3 linked regions of the Homo sapiens genome follow. The protein of the gene in region 3 interacts with the protein of the main gene of each other region in a pairwise test. Each region holds a gene or a part of one and is shown on either strand. Other genes may lie near its edges.

Region 1 (7,699 bases), on a different chromosome or scaffold from region 3:
AAATCACTGTATTCTCCTACTGATATTTTGGCTTTCCCTATATATTTTAAACGTTAGTTTTTGTTTTTCCTGGAGTCAAACTTTGATGGAGTGGCAGTCCCTCCCCTCCTCCCCTTCTCCTTCCTTCACTCTCTCCTTCCTCCTCCTTTCCCCTCTCCTCCTCTCTTTACTTCACACCTCCTCTCTTGCCTTCTCCCTCCTCTCACTCTTTCTCTCTTTCCTTCTCTATTTTCCTCCCCCTTAAATATGTGAAAAGTAATTAGCCCATCCTGGTTTATCTTGAATAATGCATTTCTGGCTGAAATTTTGCCCAAGGATCCATGCCAGTAACAGGAGCTTAGGCAAAATTGATTGGGACATGACGTTTGATTTCTGACTCACAAAGTAAATTTAAACCACTGTAATTGCAGAACTACATGTAAAAGAATTGGATCTTACACTATCATAGGTGAAAACATGAGCTGGTAAGAAAACGGAAGGTGAGAAAGCTGCCCCACAGAGGCCTCAACCCCAGACCATCTCTGGCAGTGAGTCTTGGAAATGTGCTGCTCCCCAAGACTGCCCTCTTCCTACCCCAAGGATTCTGGAATCATTTATTAGGAGGACACCCAGTCACTTGGCAGCATGCTCAATTTCGGTGTTTACCATCTAAAACTGATGGGGTGGGGAAACCCATAGTTTGGTTTACACTGTTAAAAAAACACAAAACAAAACAAAACAAAACAAAGCAAAACAAAACCTTAGGGCTAGTTTTGTAGATGGCCACCAACTGGCCCAGAGGCCTGTTTTTGTTTTCCCTCTGGGAATAGGGAGAAATAGTAAAAATACATATACATTTTTTCCTCCTAGAGGTTTCGTTGAGCGTTCTATTTTTTACTACTCTTTAGATAAGCAGGTGTCTGGAAGTGAGCACACTTGCTCATTAGCACCACCAAGTCAGATGGGAAAGAAAAGAAAGGAGTATGGGCGACAGCCATGGATTTTAACTCTAGTTCTGTCATGTCCTGGCTGTATAACTGTGAGCCAGCCTCAGTTTTCTCATCTGTGAAATGGAGATACTACCTACCTCACAACGCTGTTGTAAGACTAACAGAAGCACCCCTGTGAAATGTCTGTGACATCTTAGGTACTCATACCTGCGGGCTCTCCCAGCCCGCACAGAAACATTGCTACCCTTAATTAAGAAAATTTAATTTTTATTATTCCCAGCTTTACATTTGGTATGCAAAGAGCAATAAACTATTAATCTAAAATAGTTAGATAAATAGCATTAAACTTTATCTAAAAGCTTGTTGTAAGTTCGTAAGACTTATCTGGGGAATTAGTAGGTGCATTTTCTTTGAATTAGTAGGTGCATTTTCACTTCCTTTCAGTTTGGCCAATTTTAACTCACAAGGGACAACACTTTCTTAATGGACCAGACAGCACTCACCAATTTCACAAAGCAAATTGAAGTTGTAAATTAATAACTACATTAAGTTAATGTTTTATGAAGCACTTACTATTTCCTAAGTATTGGGCTAAGCATTTTATTTGCATTCATATCTCATATCTCATTTACTCCTAACAATCCTATAAGGCAGACTGCATAGTTATCTCCATTTTACAGATGGGGGAACTTAGACTAAGAGATTTCAAATAACCTGGGTGACACAGACAGTAAAGGGCAGAGCTCAGTCACAAGACGGAGCAGAAAGGGTGTCAGAGCTTATAAACACCACACGTGCCATCTTCTATTTTCAACAAAGGGTTTACCTAAGACTACGAATATTCAAATGATCGAATTTCTGAAATCGCCCCATGATGTAAATTCCCACAATTATATTAGAATTTCGAAAGCCACCTCCTCTCATTGCCTTATTTCAGAGAAGAATCTAAAACTCTATCATCTTATTCCAAAAGGAAAGGGGAGAATTAACTGCTTCCCTGAACTTCTCTGCCAGTCTTCCTTCAGTTATTTCTGTTTTCCTGCCTCTCATTTGTCTTAAACAACAGCTATTTTGTATTCATTCCGTAATTGTGAGCAGTGGTCCCAAAGGCCCCGTTGTAAGGAACTACAGAATACTGCCAGTGAATACTAGCGAGAAGGAAAAAGCACCGCAAACTTCCAACTCCATTCACAAAAATACCACAGAAATACATAATCGAACAAGCTAACTCCACTGACGGCTTTCCTGAAGCTTCAGCGGTGAAAGACACGAGCCGCCTGTCGCTTATGGAGGGCTGTCGCGGAGCGGGCTGCGATCCCGGAGTGTGGCCCCGCGTCCACGCGCACCTGCCCACCTGCGCGCTCCACCGCGGGGCAGCGGTTCAAGCCGGGAAGCCGCGAGTATTATCAGCTCAGAGGGGAGGGGTTCACAGGAACCGGGCTAGGTCCGAGGCTGCTGACAACTGGTTTACACAAAAGAAAGAAGAAATATAGGAAGTCCCCGCAGCAGTGCATGCCATGCCGACGCCGACGCGGGCGCCCAGCAGTGGGTGGAGGCGGATGCTCCCAGCGCCGGGTGCAAGGTCCCCCGCTGGCTCCCTTTCGCCAATGCGCCCGGCCCGGGACCAAGACACCGCGTCCTGAGCGCCGGCGGCGACCCCAGCTCCCCTCCCCGCGTCCCGCTCCCCGGGAGGACGCGCCGGGCGCCGCGCCGCACCTGTGCCCCACGGGGCGGCCTTGTCCCACCGCCCCTCGGAGGCGATGCTCCGGCCCGAGAGGACAGGCGCGGGCGCTTCCCTCGGGGCAGCGGGGGCAGACCTGGCGTCGCGGGGACGCCCCCAGCGCGTCAGACGCCGCGCGCCCACCTGGGGCCGTCGCCTCGCCACCGGCAACCTCACCTCCCGCCGCAGCCTCCTCTTCCGCCGCCATCGCAGGAGCCACTTGGTCGGCTCCGCAGCCCCGCGGCTGGCAGCATGGAGGAGCCCCGGGCCCGCCCTGCCCCGGCCCAGGCGGCGGCTCTGGAGCAGGGAAGCGGGGACTGGCGGGCCCTGCCGGGTGCCGCGGCGGCCGCCACCGCAGCCCGTAGGCGCGCACGGGACGCCGCCCCGCAGCCCGGCCGGCAGCAGCTACTGAGCATGCGGACTGGAGCCAGCCGCCCGCCGCTCTGGGCGCCGCGGGGCTTCCCGGCGGGAAAGAGACCCGGGCCAAGGGCGGAGTCGCTGCGGACACCGCCCCGCCGAGCCCTCCCGCGAGCAGCAAAGCACTAAAAGGCCAGTTGAGTCCTTCTAGCAACCACCCTATTGAAAACAGGCTTCCATGCTCATAGTAAGCTTTGTCCCAGCATTCCGAAGATTGCAGTTGTTAGACCCTCGGGGCAAAGGTAAAGGATGAATGAAGATAATTGCACGGTGGGTTAGCGGAGGGCACGGGGCTAGGGTTGGGGAGGAGGGTGCTGGACGAGAGACCCTGCTCTTTTCTGCTTAAGGAAGGGCTTAGCTGCAGAGACGAGAGTGTAGATGACAGAGAGAGGGTCCCGAGGAAGCCGTTTTGCCTCCTGGAACGGTTGGGTAAATCCAGAAACAAGATCTTTTGGGCATCACTTGACAGCCCTACATCCTATGGCCACGTGTCTAGAATACACTGGTTTGCTGCCCTCCCACTGGTCCCTAGACCCATTCCTTGGTAATCTAGTAGAAGTAAGTAAAGGAAAGTCACAGTAGAGAAGACACCAAATCAAACTTTGCAACCAGCCTAAAGGTAATAACTTTCCTACAAGGACTCAATTCCAACGTCTTAACCAGCACCTTATGTGTCCTCAGGGCAGTACTTAGGGCCATTGTGAGAGGCTGGGCAGAGGGTTTGGAAGTGTGTTCCCAAGCAGAAGTGGGCATGACAGGAGAAAACTGTTGCAGGCTTAAGCAGGGGCTAGGACTTTAGAGGTAAGGGAGACGTGCTGAAAACTGTGCTGTCCTCAACACACACCAAGACACATCCCTAATCAAAACCAGTCTTGAAACGTCTCATTCCTAGCTTTGACTTGGAACTCCACCCCAAATTCTACCAACACCAACTTCTCCTGGCAGCTAGAAACAGTAATTCCATACAGGGTTTCCCGAATGTGATCAAACCTTGGCTTTCCAGACAAGTGTACACTATTTTGAGGTGGTTTACCAAGGGGTAACAGGTAGAATTAATTAGACCTGGGCTTTAAGATCTGGGTTAAAATGTAAATACTATTCTATACATGGCCTTGCTTACAATGCATTTTCCCCCTTATCGGCTCAGTGAGCCTCACAACCTCTTTCTTAATTCCTGTCTTAGTAGAGAAACAGAAGTTCAGAGATGTCGAGTATTTTGGCCAGGATCACTCAGCTAGTAGATAGTAGAAGCAAGACCATAAAAGTTAGGTCTCCTTCTTAGGAGTTCCTATTGTGGTGTCCAGTAAGCTTGCCTGTGAATCATTGCAGTCCCCGTTTCTTAGAAACGATGATTCACTTCCACCAAAGCCTGAAAGCAAGAGAAGGGGAATCCAGAATCTAAAATACGAAAGCAGGAAGGGTAATAATGCACAAACAAAGCCGACCTACAGCATTCCATGGGGCACAACCCTTTCATTGCTTAATAGGTATTCCCCTTACTGCTCAGGTTTAAAGCCTGCTTGCTCTCTTTTTTTCTTTATGCTCTGGAGCTTTACTTTCTAAGACATGATTTTTTTGTTTTTTAAAGAGTAGCTATATAACCCATAGGATAAGGCAGAGAGACATATAATGTCTTGCCAGATGGATAGGAAGGTAATCTCTCATTTCCAGTGAGTGGTTTTCTCATATTTTCAACTTGGAAAAAAAAATGTGAGAAAGGTGATTGGATGATTTGTATAATAGAATGCTAGAGAATTTGTGTAATAGAATGCACACAGTTCCTTCTGGTCAGCATGGTTCCCCTGCCAAAAGCCCTGGAGCTGCCTTGCTCTCCAGGAATCATTGCTTGCCTTTCACTTAATTTGTTCATTAATTTTCTTTCATTGCTAAGTACTCAGGCAAGAACAAATATTTTAAAGGTGGAACAAATACTCCTTTGTCCATCTGGAATTAGGAACCACGGCCTCACAAGCTGTAAACTCCTGTCCTTTTAGCATTCTGCTGGGATTGTAACAATATAACTTAGATTAGAGAGGAGTCCCTAAAGCCACTTAGATATTGTATTTGGTCCAAGAACAACAACAACAACAACAACAACAACAAAAAACAACAAGATAGAACCCAAACCCAAAACAACAAAAAACCACACCTGCTTCAGAGTGTAATTAAATTGAAGATACTATTTCCAATGATGCATAACAATAAATAACACAGAAGCCAGGAAGGGGAGAGAAGAGGGGGTGGAAAACAACAAGGGGAAAAGAAGGCTGAACATATATTTATTACCATTGGGAACTGTACACTTAAAATGGTAAAGATGGTAAATAAAAAAAAAACATTACATAGGCCGGGCATGGTGGCTCACGCCTGTAATCTCAGCACTTTGGGAGGCCACGGCAGGCGGATCACGAGGTCAGGATGTGCAGACCGTCCTAGCTCACACGGTGAAACCCCGTCTCTACTAAATATACAAAAAATTAGCTGGGTGTGGTGGCGGGCACCTGTAATCCCAGCTACTCGGGAGGCTGAGGCAGGAGAATTGCTTGAACCCAGGAGGGGGAGGTTGCAATGAGCTGAGATCACGCCACTGCACTCCAGCCTGGGTGACAGAGCAAGACTCCATCTCAAATAAATAAATAAATAAATAGCAACTACCCATTATTGATTTCCTAAGTGACTGGGGAAAATAAATTATTAATGTTTAAAACTACCTTTTCTTCCTACCCTGCCCCCAGCATCCTGTGGAGGGTGAATCCTGGGGAAGATGCTTGGATTTGCTGGGCAGATTGATGAGTGCAGTTTGGAGAAACAAGTAGGCCAACACTCTCCCATATGTTTAGAGAGAGAAGAGGATCTATGGTGGGCTTCTGGTATAGGAAAGATGAGCTTGAGCATGGTCTAAGGGAAGGAAAAGCAGAGAGGTAATTGGAGGACAGAGCATTCCTGAGACAGAGAGGGTGGTAAAGGAGGTGGTGCAGCTGCCTTAAGGAGAGGAAATTTGCTATCTTTTTTTAATTTTAATTTTTTTTTTACATAGAGTCTCGCTCTATCGCCCAGGCTGGAGTGTAGTGTGATTTCGGCTCACTGCAACTCTGCCTCCCTGGGTTCAAGCGATTCTCATGCCTCAGCCTCCTGAGTAGCTATGATTACTGGCATGTGCCACCACACACAGCTAAATTTTTTGTATTTTCAGTAGAGACGGGGTTTCACCATGTTGGTCAGGCTGGTCTCGAACTCATGACCTCATGTGATCTGCCTGCCTTAGCCTCCCAAAGTGCTGGGATTACAGGCGTGAGCCACTGCACCTAGCCAGGAAATTTGAGATATCTTAAAGCGGTATTTAGGGAACTTCATTGTGTAATGCAAACCCTCTTACATTATTTCCCTGGAAAATAACAACTTCAGCAAAAGCTGCATTCATTTTCTCAATGCTTTTGGAGTCGTATTTATGTTTTTATTAAAAGTGAAAACATTTTGAGATTGGCCTTAGGTGGAAAGCAGGGCCACCCACAAAAATAGTCATTTAATTAACTTGTTCACATGTATTTATTGAGCACCTGCTGTGTGCCAGGCACTGTTGTAAGCACTGACTTCTGTATTTTACCTACTGTGCATCAGTTACTTTATATATATATATTCTCACAAAAACCAATGAGCAGGTATTAGTTTCTTTTTCTGTTAGCTCAGTGGTTCCCAAAATTCAATGTACATGAGAATGTGCACAATTTTAGACCCACCCCCAGAGACTGATTTAGTAGGTTTGGGGTGAATCACACTAAGTCCTTATTTCAAATGTGCTTCCTAGCTGATTTTGAAAGTTGCTCTGAGTACTCTCATCTAGGAAATACTGCTTTAACTTATCAAAAATCAATTTTCTTAAGCTGGGTTGTTGCAGTATGGTATGTACACCGGGGAAGCAGCGGGGAGAGAAGCAGTATTTCTTAGGGACAGGAATAGCAATATACTAAAATTCTGAGCAAACTGCAAGGAAGGACAAAACTTAGGACAAGAATGAGGGAATAGTTGTGCACACATCTACTTTTATGTGGAGTTGCTTACACTTTTTCCCTTAGGGATTATGCGTTTGTATGTGTGTATAAGCATCAATAACTCAACTGATGTTTACTTTTACAGTTTTTAAACACTCTTAAAGCAGTTATGGTATCCCAAGTCTTCCTCAGTCCTCTCGGTATTATATACAATCATACAAGAGGGTTCTCCAAGTTCTGTTCCTGATTTTTTTACCCAAGAAGACAAAAAGGCTGGATGCGGTGGCTCATGCCTGCAATCCCAGCACTTTGGGAGGCCAAGCGAGCACATCACTGAGGTCAGGAGTTTGAGACCAGCCTGGCCAACATGGTGAAGCCCCGTCTCTACTAAAGATACAAAAATTAGCCAGGCACGGTGGCAGGAACCTAATCACAGCTAGTCGGGAGGCCAAGGCAGAATTGCTTAAACCTGGGAGGTGGAGGTAGCAGTGAGCCAAGACCACGCCATTGCACTCCAGCCTGGGCGACAGAGTGAGACTCCGTCTCAAAAAAAAAAAAAAAAGATATTAGGCTGAGTATTGACAGTTTACTTTTCCTACCATGAGTTTCTCCCTTTTGAAGAGACTTACAAGTCTTCCTGTGTT
Region 2 (7,110 bases), on a different chromosome or scaffold from region 3:
CCTCTTCCTCCTGATTCTTCCCACAGTTCTCCAGCCAATGGATCCTCAGTCCCTTGGAATTTGTCTTGTATCTGTGTCTGTCTGTCCTGACATGCCAGGGCAGGAGCTCGCAGACTAATGGAAGCCCGCCCGTGGTCACAGCATCTACCTCCCCACCCCAGAACACACACACACCAGCGCATACACACTCAGCACAGTCACTGGCCTTTATTTACTGCCACAGCCCTTGAAAGTGGTGTTGGGAGATTGCAATTTTGAAGTCTTTCCTGACATTCCACCAAAGGCTCGTCTTTTGCAACTAATGCTGCACACAAACACATAGCAACCTTCACACAGTATGCACTTCAGTAACACTCCACTGCAACCCGAGGTAGTGTGCCATTTTATAAAAGGAGCTGCTGCAGCTTATGAAAGAAATAGTGCTGTGTCCTGGAGCTGAGCTGTGACATGAGGAGCCAGGATTCCAGCCTTGGCGCCCATCTCCACCACACAGCGCTTGGCTCACCCAGTGGGGAGGACTCAGGAGTCCTGGCAGAGTCAACACATTCTTCCATGGGAGAGGGGCACGGTGAGCGTGGCTGCGGCAGGGGGAGGGCTCTGGACCAGAAACCACCCACTCCCCGCAGTGACCCTCTCTCTGTTCATGAAACAGTGTGACACACCTGCCCAGCACTTGACTCTTGAGCATGCACTTGTCCCCATTACCCCATGTGTTGCCACATTTTTTCCAGATAGCAACAGCAGCAGGTACTGGAGAAGGTCTCCAGCTTTAGGCCCCACCTGAGCCCCCCTGGCCTGGACTCCAGATGTCATTCCTATCAGAGAGCTCTCCCCGAGGCCGCGCCCTCTGTCTGTGGGTTTGGAGCCGACAGCAGAGTCTGGTACCCACACGGTGGGTTATTCATACCCCATGCCGGGACTCCACACCCCCAAGACACACACACTCACCATGAGATGCTGGAAGAGCCAAGAACGCATTATATTGGTGGCATGCTTGGGCAAGACTCCTCGTTTGTTCTTGGACTTCTTATCCTCATTGTCCAGGAGGGAGGTGAGGTCAAGGTTAACCTTCAGGGCACGTGGAGAGAAAATCAGCATCAGCAGCCTGTGAGGGCAGCGGCTGGGGACCTGTTGCCATAGCGACGGCAGGCTTGGCTGCCAGCCCCTTTCCCGGCTCATTCCTAGGGCCCTGGGGAGGTCACCTTTCCCTCTCAGCCCATGCCAGCCCCTCAGAGAGTGGAGGTGAGGCTTGGGTGATGGGAGAAGGGAAGAAGGACAAGGAGGAAGAGATGGGGAAGGGGGGGAGAGAGAGAGAGAGAGAGAGAGAGAGAGAGAGAGAGAGAGAGAGAGAAAGACAGAGGAAACAGGGCCATGCAGAGAGAACAGGAGAAGATATGAATTTGCCATAAGCTGTCAAGTAGTTATCAGCATTTCTGTGGTACTTTACAGTTTGCAAAGCACTTTCCTATCCATCGCTGTGGTTCATTCTCACAGCAGCCCTGTAGGTTGGCTAGGCTGTGTGCAGTTGCTATTAATCCCCCTTTTATCAATAAGAAGTCTGAGGCTCAGAGAGGTTAGGTGACTTATCAGAGATCCCAGAGTTAATGTCAGATCCCAGACTCTGACTTCCGATCTTTCTACTCTTCCTTTGTGTGTGCACTCTCTACCACTGAGGGACACAGCGGCTCAGTCTGCAGACAGGAATAGGAAGTGCAGGATCCTTTGATGTAACCCCAGGAGGGAGGCAGCAAAATCCCAGGAGTTGATAAAACCTTTCCAAGACCCAGCTTCTTATCTGTAAAGTAGGGGTAATGATACCTCTTAGAGGATGATGAGGATTCAATGAGTCACCCGTGTAAAGTGCCTGGCAGATAAGAAGCGATTACAGGTGCCCTAGCCCACACCATGCACATGTGCACACACCTACACACACTCACCTGTGTGTTCTGGATCTGGATGGCTCCCTGGGGGATTGCTTGGGTGACCACCTGACCCTGGGAGGTTACCATGGTAACCGGTTGGTATAAGGCTCCACCTGAGGAGACAACCAGTTTTGGGGTCCCCTGCCATGGGAGTGGGTAGGAGCGAGGGCAAGCAGGGTTCCCAGTTCATTTGGCACTCATGTGTAAAGACCCTCTACTTGGAGCCCTTGGGTAGCGAGCTATGGCTTTCTGCTTTATGGGTGGGTGGGGGATGGTGTCTAGAGCCTAGGACAGAGCCTCTGGTGGGAGGTGCTTCGGGGAAGGGACAACAGCCTTACTTGGTCCTCTCAGGGGCTCATGAGATTTTGACCCAAATTTGTTCTAAACCATCACAATTGGGTCTTGGCGCTAACCGTCTATAAACTTACAGAAAACTTTAGTCAAGAAACTGAGCTGGGAGCCCCTCCCTCGGTGGAGGACAACCCCCACCCCTGGAACCGCCTCGGGGCCACCCTTTCTCCTCCCAGGGAATTCCCACAATCACCCTTCCCAGTCTTTGCACCGACCTGACACAACTTGTGAGTTGACGGTTGTCATGGCGATGTTGCCCTGCTGGAGCGCTGAGGCTGGGACCACAATCCCCTGGGGGTTATTGGAGACTCCGGACATGGAATTGGGGGAATTCTGCAGGAGGTCCTGGCAGTGAGGGAGGCGTGGTTTGTGACAATGACACTGAGAGCTTAGACCCTACAGCCCCAGAGTCCTCTTCCGTCCTTTCCCCTTCCTGCCTGCCCCCCTCCCTCCTTCTAGCTCCTCCCCAGACCCAGGTCCAGAAGGCAACTCTCTTGGTTTCCTAGAAAGGGTGAATAAGAAGGCTCAATTAAAAAAAACAAAAACAAAAAGAGTCACCCATTTAACCATTCCATTGCCCTGAAAACCTAAGGCACAAATTATCTGATAACCCCCATGGTCTCCTCCTTGGCTGTACTTTGAAATCTCCAGTAATGATGCTTGGGTTCCAATCTCAGAGAGTCTCATTTAATTGTTCAGGAGTGTGTCCTGGGCTCTGGATTTTTTCTTGATCAGATCCATCATATTCAATGGGCTCCGGGTTATTAAAAGCTCCCCAGGTGATTCCACTGTCAGCCGGGTCTGAGAAAATGGCTTCACCTGGTCGGCACCTGCTCATCCTTCAGCGACGCTTGTCTCCTGATGCTTTCCCGTCCCCCGGCTGCTCTCCACACACCTCCATCACAGGCCTGTCACACTAGGCTGCACACACAGAGCAGCCTCCAGCTCTCACCTTTGTATCCTTAGCACCTAGCTCAGGATACTAAAATACATGTTAAATAAGCAAATGAAAGCCGCCCTAGCCTTCCCATAACCTGTCTTCTAAGGGTGTCTCATATGAGCCTCAGCCACCTTCGGCACATGGCATCGATCCTGTTCTCTTCCTCAGGCTGCCCACAGGATTCCACTGGAAACAGACTCTCCTCTCCCCACACTGCCGACCAGCACGGAACCTTTGCCGCTTTTCTTTGCGTTAGCCCAGGCAGGTAAGACATGTTTTCCTGGCCCTCTGCTCTCCTCACCATTCCTAGTTAACAGCTGGGTAAAGAAGTCCTTGGACTTGCTGTGGAGCCCTCCCTGCTTTCTGGGGAGCCTGCACTGGGAGGCTGGGTGCTTGGAGAGAATTTGTGAGGAAGGAATAGGATGTGGGAGAGGTTAGGGTCTCTAGGTTCGGAGAAGAAAAAAGGCAGCGAGTGAAGTGTGGGAGCCTCAGGAGGCCTGCCTGAGTCTCTTAGCTCCTCCTAGCCACGGTTCCTCATCTGAAGACGGGGCTTGAACCAGTTAACAGGTCCAATGGCCATTTCGGCGACATTCCCATGCTCAAATGCTGGAATCGTAAGGCGTGAACTGCAAGGATTTAGAGACAGGTAAATGGTCAAGGAAATAGACAAAATGGGGCAAAAAAGAAGGCCCCAGCTTCCCGGTTTTTGTTTTAGGACTTGAAGAAGCTTGGGTCTTCAGCCTCCAGGGCAAGTCTAGGGTTTTGAGCCCGGAAATCTGTGTTTGGAGGAAACCTCGAGCCAGTGACTGCCTACCTGTAGCAACGAAGGGAAAGTGTTACAGCCCGGGGGACAGCCATGGCGAATCTCCTCCCAGACCCTGACAACACAGAACCTGGCAGAGCCTGTCAGGAAGTGGAAGTCGGCACTGATTTATACATCTCACTCGATTCAGCTGATTAAATCCCCCTTGGCGTCTCCTCCAGAGCTGCCTTTTTTTACTCTCCTGGGTTGTCTCTGGCCCAAGAGCTGGAGGAGTATTTCCTATAAATAAGCAGCGCCAGGAGGAGAGGAGCCAAGCACGCCCTCCTCCCACCCACCTGCCGCACGGGCCTCCTGGTGTGGCTCCTCCGGGTGGGTGGGGCGATGGAGGCCTTGCTTCTATTCTGAGCTCACCTCTGCTGCTGTGACCTTGGGGAACAGAGGGGGCAGCTCTTGCCTTGGCTTCCCCTTCCTGGGGCCCCGTGGGAGCCGCCTAGCCCGTGAAGCTTATACTTTGAGCAGAGCTCTTGGCCTTTCTGTTCCTGCAGTCGCAGTCTAAAATGGAGTCTGCCATGCAGAAGCCTAGAAACTGGAAGAGCCCCTGGAAGCCACACATTTCCCCTCCCTGAAGTACAAATAAGGCACTGAGGTTTAGAGATGCCTGGGACTTCCCAAGGCCACACAGCCCGTTAGCAGCCAGAGGACTAGAACACAGATCTCCTTCACCCACAAATGCCCCCTACACCGGTTCTGGGCTGCAAATGCTCCTTGAATCCTGCAGGTCAACCAATCATCATTGCAGGCAAGGTGAACAGATAAAAACAACTAAAACTCAGAAGTCCAGAAGCAGCGTGGGCACTGGAGGAAAGGCAATCTCGTCACCACCCTTCTGTGGGCCTCATCTCCTTATGTATACAGTGCATGTGACACCGGGACCCTCAACGCCTGAGTTTTCAGCGATGAGACTGCTCTGAGTTTGAGTTCTCCTTGTTCCAACATCCCAGCCTACCATTCTCATGGTGTGTAAACCGTGCTGATATTATATTTGAAGCTGAAGCAAACTCGGAAGGTAAATTTACTTTTTTTTTTGTTTGTTTTTTGAGACAGGGTAGAGAGTCTTGCTCTGTTGCCCAGGCTTGTCTCAAACTTCTGGGGTCATGTAATCCTCCCACCTGAGCCTCCTGAGTCATGGGATTACAGGCGTGAGCCACCACACCAGGCTTGAAGGTAAATTTAATGGGGGAGTGGGTACCTCCATGCCATTCACCTTAAAACCAGTGGAAGTGACTTCTCAATCCCTTGTTTGGAATCATCCATGCTAGCCTGTGCCTCTTCTGGTAGGGATATTTGAGAATTTCAAACATAAAAGGTTGTCCTAGACTTTCTTCACCCCCAAAAAAGTACCCAACAAGGTTAGAAAAATACAAGCAAAGTCAGTAAAATAAATACAAGATGTGTCCCTTGGGATTCAACCAACACACATTGTTTCCTAGCCAAAGGCAGAGGGTGAGCCACCACCTGGATGCTTCGTCTGCTTACTCAGACCCTGGCTGCTTCTCCACCTTGTGGCTTGGATACCCTCCATGCCAATTTACCCAATTTGGGTAACTAAGGGCAATTTATGCATTGGATCAGAGCCTTCTCTTTCCTACCCTTCTCTCCCTTCCCTGGGTCTTTGGCTGGAAGGTGCTGAGAGGCAGCCAGATTCTATCAGTGAAGGAATAAAATAAAAACCTTCAGAGATAGAGTCCAAGGGCAGGGCTGGGACTGGCAACGTTTTAGGTGGGGCAGGGAAGAGGAAGCAAAATTTTGGCATCCCGGAGGTCTGGGGAAATGATATTCATCCCTTACATCTGTAAACATGAGCTGCTTCACAAACCTGCCTTGAGTGTGCTTTTTTTTTTTTTTTTTTTTTTTTTTTTTAGACATAGATTCTCAGGGCCACTGGGTCAAGACCCTCACCCATCATCTAGCAATCTATATTTCTAAAAACTTCCTTGTGATGGTCCCAAAGATCGTACACGCTGAGTATGAGAGAGCTTTCACCACGCTGTTCCATTTTAATGTCACCATCACCCCATGGGGTCAGCAGGACTGTCCTATTTGCCTGAAGAGAGATTGAGGTCCAGAGAGGATGGAAGTGACTTCCCAGAGTCAAATAACTGTGCCTCCAGCCTAAGGCCTCTGGCTCTGAGTGTAGGACGAGTGCTCACAGAGAGAGGATATGTGCTTCGGGGTCAGACAGGCTCCAATGCAAGCACAGTGCCTGGCACATTTAGCCATCCAATAATTTATTTCCCACTTCCCTTGGCTAAGGTCACTCAACTAGGGAGTCGTACAGTTGGGATTTAAAAACCTGTCCTAGAAGCCTTCAAGCCACTTGAGTTCTTTACGTAGCAATGGAAGGGGTTCAGCTGGGGTTGCGCACGCAGGCAGAGTTGTGCAAACCTGGCTACATGTCTCCCTGTCTGAGATGTTCCTGGGCAATGGTCGAGTCCCAGGATCCTAAGCATCGTCTCTGACTAGCCCCACAACTCCACTTGGCTGCGATTTCCAGTCCAGGCTTAGTCTCTAGAGCCGTGGAATGGAGACAAGGAGGGTCTGACTCTCTTTTCTGAGGAAGGAACTTCCAGAGCAGCGGTGGAAACCCCGTGGGGAGCACATGTTGGCTAAGCACACAGTATTATTAGCTTTTTGACAGCTTCCCCTCAGGGCTTATCAGACTCCAAACCCAGGTAGATGCCACTGTGTCTAGACACAGAGTTGCTCCCCTCTAGGCTCCTTAGCACCCAGATGGAAGTGAGAAGAGTGTTTGGTACGGTTCTAGTTACTTTTTTCAGCACCCAGAGCCTCACATCCCTGCTGGAATTATCCAGGAACCTGGGGATGACAGCTGGTTATCCAGCCCAAGAATTCTGTTCGTTTTGTTCCACTAGGAAGACAGCCGTGGTGTCCCCAAGCCTCTGGAAACTGCCTGAGGCCTGGGAATCAGATGAAAACCAACACGCCGGGCTCCATGGGCACCCCTGGAAGCGGCCCCACTCCTGTTCCTTGTGTGCTGTTGATTGAGACTCAGAAGCAGGAGCCTCTCAGGAGGGGCAGAGCAAGGCAGGGCTTTGGGTTTGGAATGGCAGAGA
Region 3 (6,401 bases):
ATTAGATATAATCTAAGCAGGTGTATGTGAGCAGGAAAAAAACCACATTAGAGCCACCTGAATCTAGATATGATCTATGATTTTGACAGCATTCAGTTTTGTTCTCAAGATCAGTGACATAATCTTTACTACATATTGTTATTTTTAAGGTATGTGCAGTTTTGTAACAGCAATACAATGCAGGTATGTACACTTCATTGTAAATAACCATTCTGGCGAAAAAAAGGCTTTCAATGACTTTGGACAAGTAAATGATTCTTGGTACAAAATCATACTTCTTTGGTATTTATGAAAAAAAAGGAAGGTGTTTTAACTCTGAGCACCCAATTCCTGGTGCTCCATTTAAGTATTTAAGATGTTTCTAATTAGGGTTGAGTCTTGTTGTGAACAGCTAGTGAAATACTAACATGGGAGGGCAAGTTTTATGAGCATTGATAAATTGAACACAAATTATCTGTTACAGAGACTACAAAGAGCTATAGATAAAAAGTACAGCAAAATGATTTCATGAAATCAATATTTTATTCAGTGTCAAAGCATCTTAACTGAATTGTGTAAGTAATTTTGTCTGTAATTTTAGAAGTAACATTTGTAGAAAATATCAATATTATCAGTTGTGCTACTAGAAATATTGAAGGAGTTAATTCTGAATTTATTCATTTATGCAGTTATCTATATCCACTTAGGTACAAAACTTTTGTAAGAAAGATAACACTTTTATTGCATTATAATTTCATATTTTACAGGAGTCATAATGCAAACTTATAAGCATAAATATATACATGATGCTACCAAATGGCAATGTAACCACTAAGAGATTTAAAACATAAAACTAGAATTTAACAAGCAAAATACTTAATATGGCTTTTAATGGAAAATAACTGTTTAGAAATGATTTGTTATTGCCCCATTCTAGTCATTCCCCATCAAGTGAACATAAAATTATGATCTCCATTTAAAACGGTACAAGTTATCTAAGCCAACTTTGTACTTTTTTGCTACTTTTTTGTAGCATGTATGCAGTATGATTTCTGGACTTCCTTAAATATACATACATATATACATATATACAGATATACAGTACACAGTTCTGTTTTAATACCCCTGAACATCTTGATTAAAACTATTACAATTTTTCTATTATAAAACTACTTGAAAAGTTGGCATAACTTCCTGGTATTGAAGTTCAATCCTACAGAATTAAAAAAAAAAGCAACAAAATGTTGGTTATAAATACATTCTTTACAAAAAAAAATTGAATAGTGGTCCCGCACTCATAATTTATATTACAGTGAAAACATTTTATCAATTTAAAGGTATTTGTATCTTGTTGTCCTTGGTTTCTGTGTGAAATAGAGGAAGTTAATAATGAGAATATTGTAGGCAGGCCTATTTGTTAGGTTTTTCTAGGTGTTCATTTTTGTGTAAGTTCCAATTCACTTCTTTTGAGTTGTTGTTGATTTCTATTTGCCTTGTATTACTGCTGCTGCTGCTTCTTTTGGTGTTCTGGGAACACTGGGTGACTTTACTTCTAGGAACAGGAAGAAAAGATTTAACTCTTGAAACACCCAACTCAGTCTTTGATTTACTGTTGCTGCATTCAGTAGTTTGATGGCTGCTGAGAGGACTGACCTCCTGTAAGAGACAAGAAACCACACAAGTTTATCACAAACTTCTCCTGTTATGAGCCCTACCCCTGCCTCCTCTTTGAGCAAATGTACAGGAGTTTCTCTCTAAAACTATAGGTTCTCGTGAAAAATCAAAAGAAAATGGAGAGGAGAAGCTGAGTAATTAATTTCCTATAGACTTACTGCATGATTTTCATTAATCCATCTGCTGTTACAAAATTCCTAAATACAGGAGTCAGTGAATCAAGTGCTAAGGCGTCGATCTCCTTACCAACAGAAACTTCACAAAATTACAGGCATGAGGAAATCACCAAATTGGAGTAGTCCCATTTGTAGGTAGCTCTACAAACTATGTCACCTTGGGTAAATCACCTAACTTTTCTGCTTTCTACTTTCAAGTCTTAAAAGTGAACTATTACTCAATAATCAAATAATCTGGGGGCATATAGGAGAAAACATAAGAGAAACATTCCTTCCCTAGCAGAACCTACATTCATCTATGGTTAGGCCACTCAAGATCTTCCATACTTGGAAGCTGCATGTTCTCATTTCTCTAATGTTTCAGAAATCCTGTGATTACCTGGTCAATGTCTCTCATTTTGCCCATGAAGAATCTGAGAGCTGGATAGGTAAGATGATTTGCCCACAGTGAACGGAGTGGTGAAGCTGGGACAAGACCTCAGGTCTCCCAACTTTCACTCAAGGTATTTTCCCTATATTGCATTAAATTCTGCAAACTAACAAACATGACATGACTCCTACTAAGTGACCTACTCTGAATGCCTCTGAAGGAGTTGACCTTGATAACTTCTCCTCTTCAAAAGTAATAATGCACCCAACAGCAATATAACCATTACAAGAATTTAAAACAAAACTAAAATTTAACAGGAAAAATCTGGCTTCATCTGGCAGTTGCGGCAGTTGCATTCTCCTGGGTATCGTCTTATATGACATTGGAATCACCTGGGGGAGCTTTAATAGTCATTGGCTGGGCCCTATTACCAGAGATTCATATTTAATAGTTCTGGGGTGTGGCATGGACATACGATTTTAAAAAATCTTGCGGCCAAAGAACGCCTAGCTTAACTCCTCACTATCCTTTTTCTCCATTGAGCAATTAAATCAAGGGTCCCCAAGCCACAGGCTGTGGACCAGTCCATGGCCTATTAATAACTGGGCAGCACAGCAGGACGTGAGCGGGGGCGAGCCAGTATTACCACCTGAGCTCCGCCTCCTGTCAGATCAGCAGCATTAGATTCTCATAGTAGTACAAACCCTCTTGTGAATTGTGCAAGTGAGGGGTCTAGGTTGCCCAGTCCTTGCGAGAATCTAATGCCTAAAGATCTGAGATGGAACAGTTTCATCCGGAAACTACCCAGGTCCGTGGAAAAATTGTCTTCCACGAAACCAGTCTCCAGTGCCAAAATGGCTGGGGACTGCTGTCCTAAATGGTAGCATTTTTCTTAGCCCTCTATAAGTCACACATTGATAATCTTTCCCTTCAGAGTATTTCAAGCTCTAAGTATTTCCCAAAGTTCTTTCTTTAGCCCTCATTTATCTCCTGCATTTCCACCCCACTAATTCACCTATATGTCTAGCCACACTTCAAATTCTTTCTAAAACTGTATTTATTGCATTTCTTCAATACTAATTTCTAAAGCCTTTCCGCTTGGCTCATTACTGGCTAATGCTGCTCTCCCAGTGAATTTAGCAGGAAATCCTCAGTTATCTTTAGCAGCTGCCTTTCTCTCTCTCCTCACCAACCTAATCCAATGTTACCCACAAAATGGGCAGAGAATTATGGCTGTGTTTGTGTGAATAGGAAGGTAAAGGATAAGTCCTCACTAACTGGCATGTCACTAAAGTTCTTTTAAAGTTTGGCTCCAATCCCCTTTAAATCCTATTTTTCCTTTACTTCCCTGTTAAAGTCCTAATTCTTTAAAGCCCAACACAACATGTTCATTAAACTACCCCTAAATCACCAAAGTGAAATCTCTTGGGGTCAGATTTTCAGACTCAGCTAATCTTAAGTGGAACAGCAATGTAACTCTAATATATACTTGGCTAGTGGTTTGGGAAAATATAAAAACACTGAAACAACAAATATGTAATGGAGAATAAAGAGGGGACAAATCTGGGGTCCAGGCCACCTGCATTTACAGGGAAAGGAAAGAGAAGTCTAGACTGCAAGAAGCTAGCTTAGAAAGGCAAGAGCTTCCTGATAAAACAAAAAACAGATGGGCTCGGTTTTAACTACGTCCGAGGAAGCCTGGAAAAAGGCTGAGCTACATCTGGTGAGGGAACACATCCTAGTCCATCCTCGTCACCTCCATGTGTACTTGATGGTATGTTAAGGGCGAATCTGCTTAGTATGTTCTGCTTTTGTTTTGTAAAGATGCTTATGCTGTCAAGTTACCAGAAAGAAAATGAGAAGTTACATTGCTTGTCATGAGTTGGATGGTGATAGTCACAACTGTAAAAACAGTGCAGGTACCAGGATCCAATCTCATTTTTCCTAACAAGAAATTACTGTTAAGTCCGCAAAATGGGACTTGGTCATGGGCCTACTAAGGCCAATTAGAACTTGTAATTTGGTTTAAAACACCAGCAAATGCAACACATACGTAGTATTCAGAAAACATGAAATATGGCATTATAATAAGGATAACAGTTAGTTGCTATACAGAATCTGGTGGTGAGGGGAGTTGTTTAATTTTGCCATTATTGTCAAATCTACAGAGTTAATTAATGCCATGGCCCAGAGGAAGGAAAGGAGACATACACTGTTCTAGTCTGTTTCTGTACCTGCAACATGATGGTGAGGGGAGTGTACCTTCATGGTCTGAGGCAGGAAATATCCACATGAAATAAAGTACTGAGAAGTACCCAGAACAACTAAAAACATGTAGTTTGGTCAGTCCCTGGAAGTGTGAGGCTAGAATGGAAGGAGTTAGGATGAGAACATGGAGAATCACTTGGGCTTAGCGTGAGCCACAGCAATTCAAGGCCAGGAGTGCAAGAATAGAGCAGGTGACCAATGCACAGCATCCTGCCTGAAAAGTGCTCCTGACACCCTGGAAGTCAAGCCTAGGGGGCAGCGGAGTTTAGGAGCAGGAGAGTTACAGGTGTTTAATGCTTCCTGGGCTAAAACCCCCGAATTATCTGTATTAAATGTATAACGTTTACTATCCATATTGCTGTGCATGTTAAACTCAAAAACTAATTTGTGTAGAAAGGCACTGACCTAAAGTAAGTTTTATTTAGCCTTAAAGAATTGGTAAATCAGAGCAATTCATTCAATACACAGCATCTACTAGAAGCTAAGAAGATATTGTAATTCCTCTAGATGGGAAAGTTAGGGGCAGGAGGAAAAGAACAACATGTAGGGAAGGTGGCATTGGGGGTGAGTCTTTAAAGAGGCACAGGACTGTGACGAGAGAAGGTTCTATGGGGAGGAGTACAGAGGGAAGTAGTAAATTACATGTAAAAAAGGAACATGTGAAAAGCTACATGAAGGCATCTCAATCCCTCTAAAGATATATTTGGAAAGAAAGAAATGGGTGGAAAATGAAGATGACAGATCAGGGCTATGTTTTAGAACAGTGGGTCTCAACCCTGGATGCATGTAAGAATCACCAGGGACCTTTAAAAAACCCATTGTCCAGGCTTCCCCTCAGACTAGAGTCCAGGCCCTGAAGTTAAAAAAAAAAAAAAAAAAGAAGCCTCAAGTGGATTTCATCATGCAACCAAAGATGTGAACTTGTCCTTTCAGAGGATTAGTTTGGATTTACATAAAAGGAAAACATTTATTAACATTTGTTCTTCCTGTTGATTTAAATATGTATATTTGTTTTTAATTCAGAAGGCCTGCTAAATGCCACTTGATTAGTAAACCCAATTACTCTCCCTTACTGTTAGAGCAGTGAGGAGTTATATTGTTGCAAATAATAAAGATAACTTACTCATTTTTGTTTTCCAACAGATAATGATGGTTGCAGGGCCCCTCTTCAATGGAGGCATTGCCAGCCTTCTGGCCATGAAGGAGAAAGTGATTTCAACTAACCCAGGAAACTCTTACCTCTAAATGGAGATACTTCCTGATAACAGAAGAAACTGGGCATCTAACCCAGAAATACCAGCTGAGTAGGAGAAGAGAAAAGGCATCAGCCAGTCAAGGTTTCAGAAGGCTGCCAACAGTAAGTACCACTTTGCCCTCTGCTGGCACTTTCTGAGAAAAACATCATCTAGCTCTTGGGGAAGAGTCCCTCCAAATAAGTGTCTTCAGTGGGCAAAGGGAGAGAAGACTAGGAGGCAGCGGTCCTAATTCCCACATCAAATTGCACATTTAAACAATAACATAGTTTTTTTTTCTTTGTATAAGAGCCCAGATAGTATAAAAGGACTCGCTTTAAAAAATATCTTAAACAAAGCTGCCCAGAACTTTGACTTTCAGTACTACTTTTTTTTTGTGGACAGTACCTTATTGTAGCAACTCAATATGGTCATGTGACAGAGAAATAGGGGTATGACAATGTTTGTTTCTTTATTAGACATTTAAGCAGCAGCCATTCTCTATTTTTACACAAGAAAGTGATTTGGGCTTATGGGGAAGGTGGTTCACTGTTCCTCTTGCTAAGATCCTCCTGGCCCCTTCCACTGACGATGTTCCACAAGGAATCCTAAATTCTTGGGTCCTAGAGACTGGCGTCCAGTCAAGCACAGCTCAGAGCAAGCCAATAAATACAGGGGGAGTGAGTTGAGGCTTTAAAGATA

What was found.
Region 1: the proteins of CTTNBP2 (region 3) and BMAL2 interact in binary tests that used the Homo sapiens proteins (3 or more experiments, as listed by UniProt).
Region 2: the proteins of CTTNBP2 (region 3) and PKNOX2 interact in binary tests that used the Homo sapiens proteins (3 or more experiments, as listed by UniProt).

What each region holds. Positions count from the first base shown.
Region 1 is NC_000012.12:27,328,231-27,335,929, reverse strand, and holds the start of BMAL2 (basic helix-loop-helix ARNT-like protein 2), read right to left. Parts: upstream 3,095-7,699; 5' UTR 2,858-3,094; coding exon 2,827-2,857; coding exon of another isoform or gene 2,794-2,826; intron 1-2,793. UniProt on the Homo sapiens protein: Transcriptional activator which forms a core component of the circadian clock.
Region 2 is NC_000011.10:125,405,704-125,412,813, reverse strand, and holds part of PKNOX2 (homeobox protein PKNOX2), read right to left. Parts: intron 2,619-7,110; coding exon 2,489-2,618; intron 2,036-2,488; coding exon 1,938-2,035; intron 1,069-1,937; coding exon 949-1,068; intron 1-948.
Region 3 is NC_000007.14:117,710,148-117,716,548, forward strand, and holds the end of CTTNBP2 (cortactin-binding protein 2), read right to left. Parts: exon of another isoform or gene 5,736-6,401; intron 1,636-5,735; coding exon 1,390-1,635; 3' UTR 504-1,389; downstream 1-503. UniProt on the Homo sapiens protein: Regulates the dendritic spine distribution of CTTN/cortactin in hippocampal neurons, and thus controls dendritic spinogenesis and dendritic spine maintenance.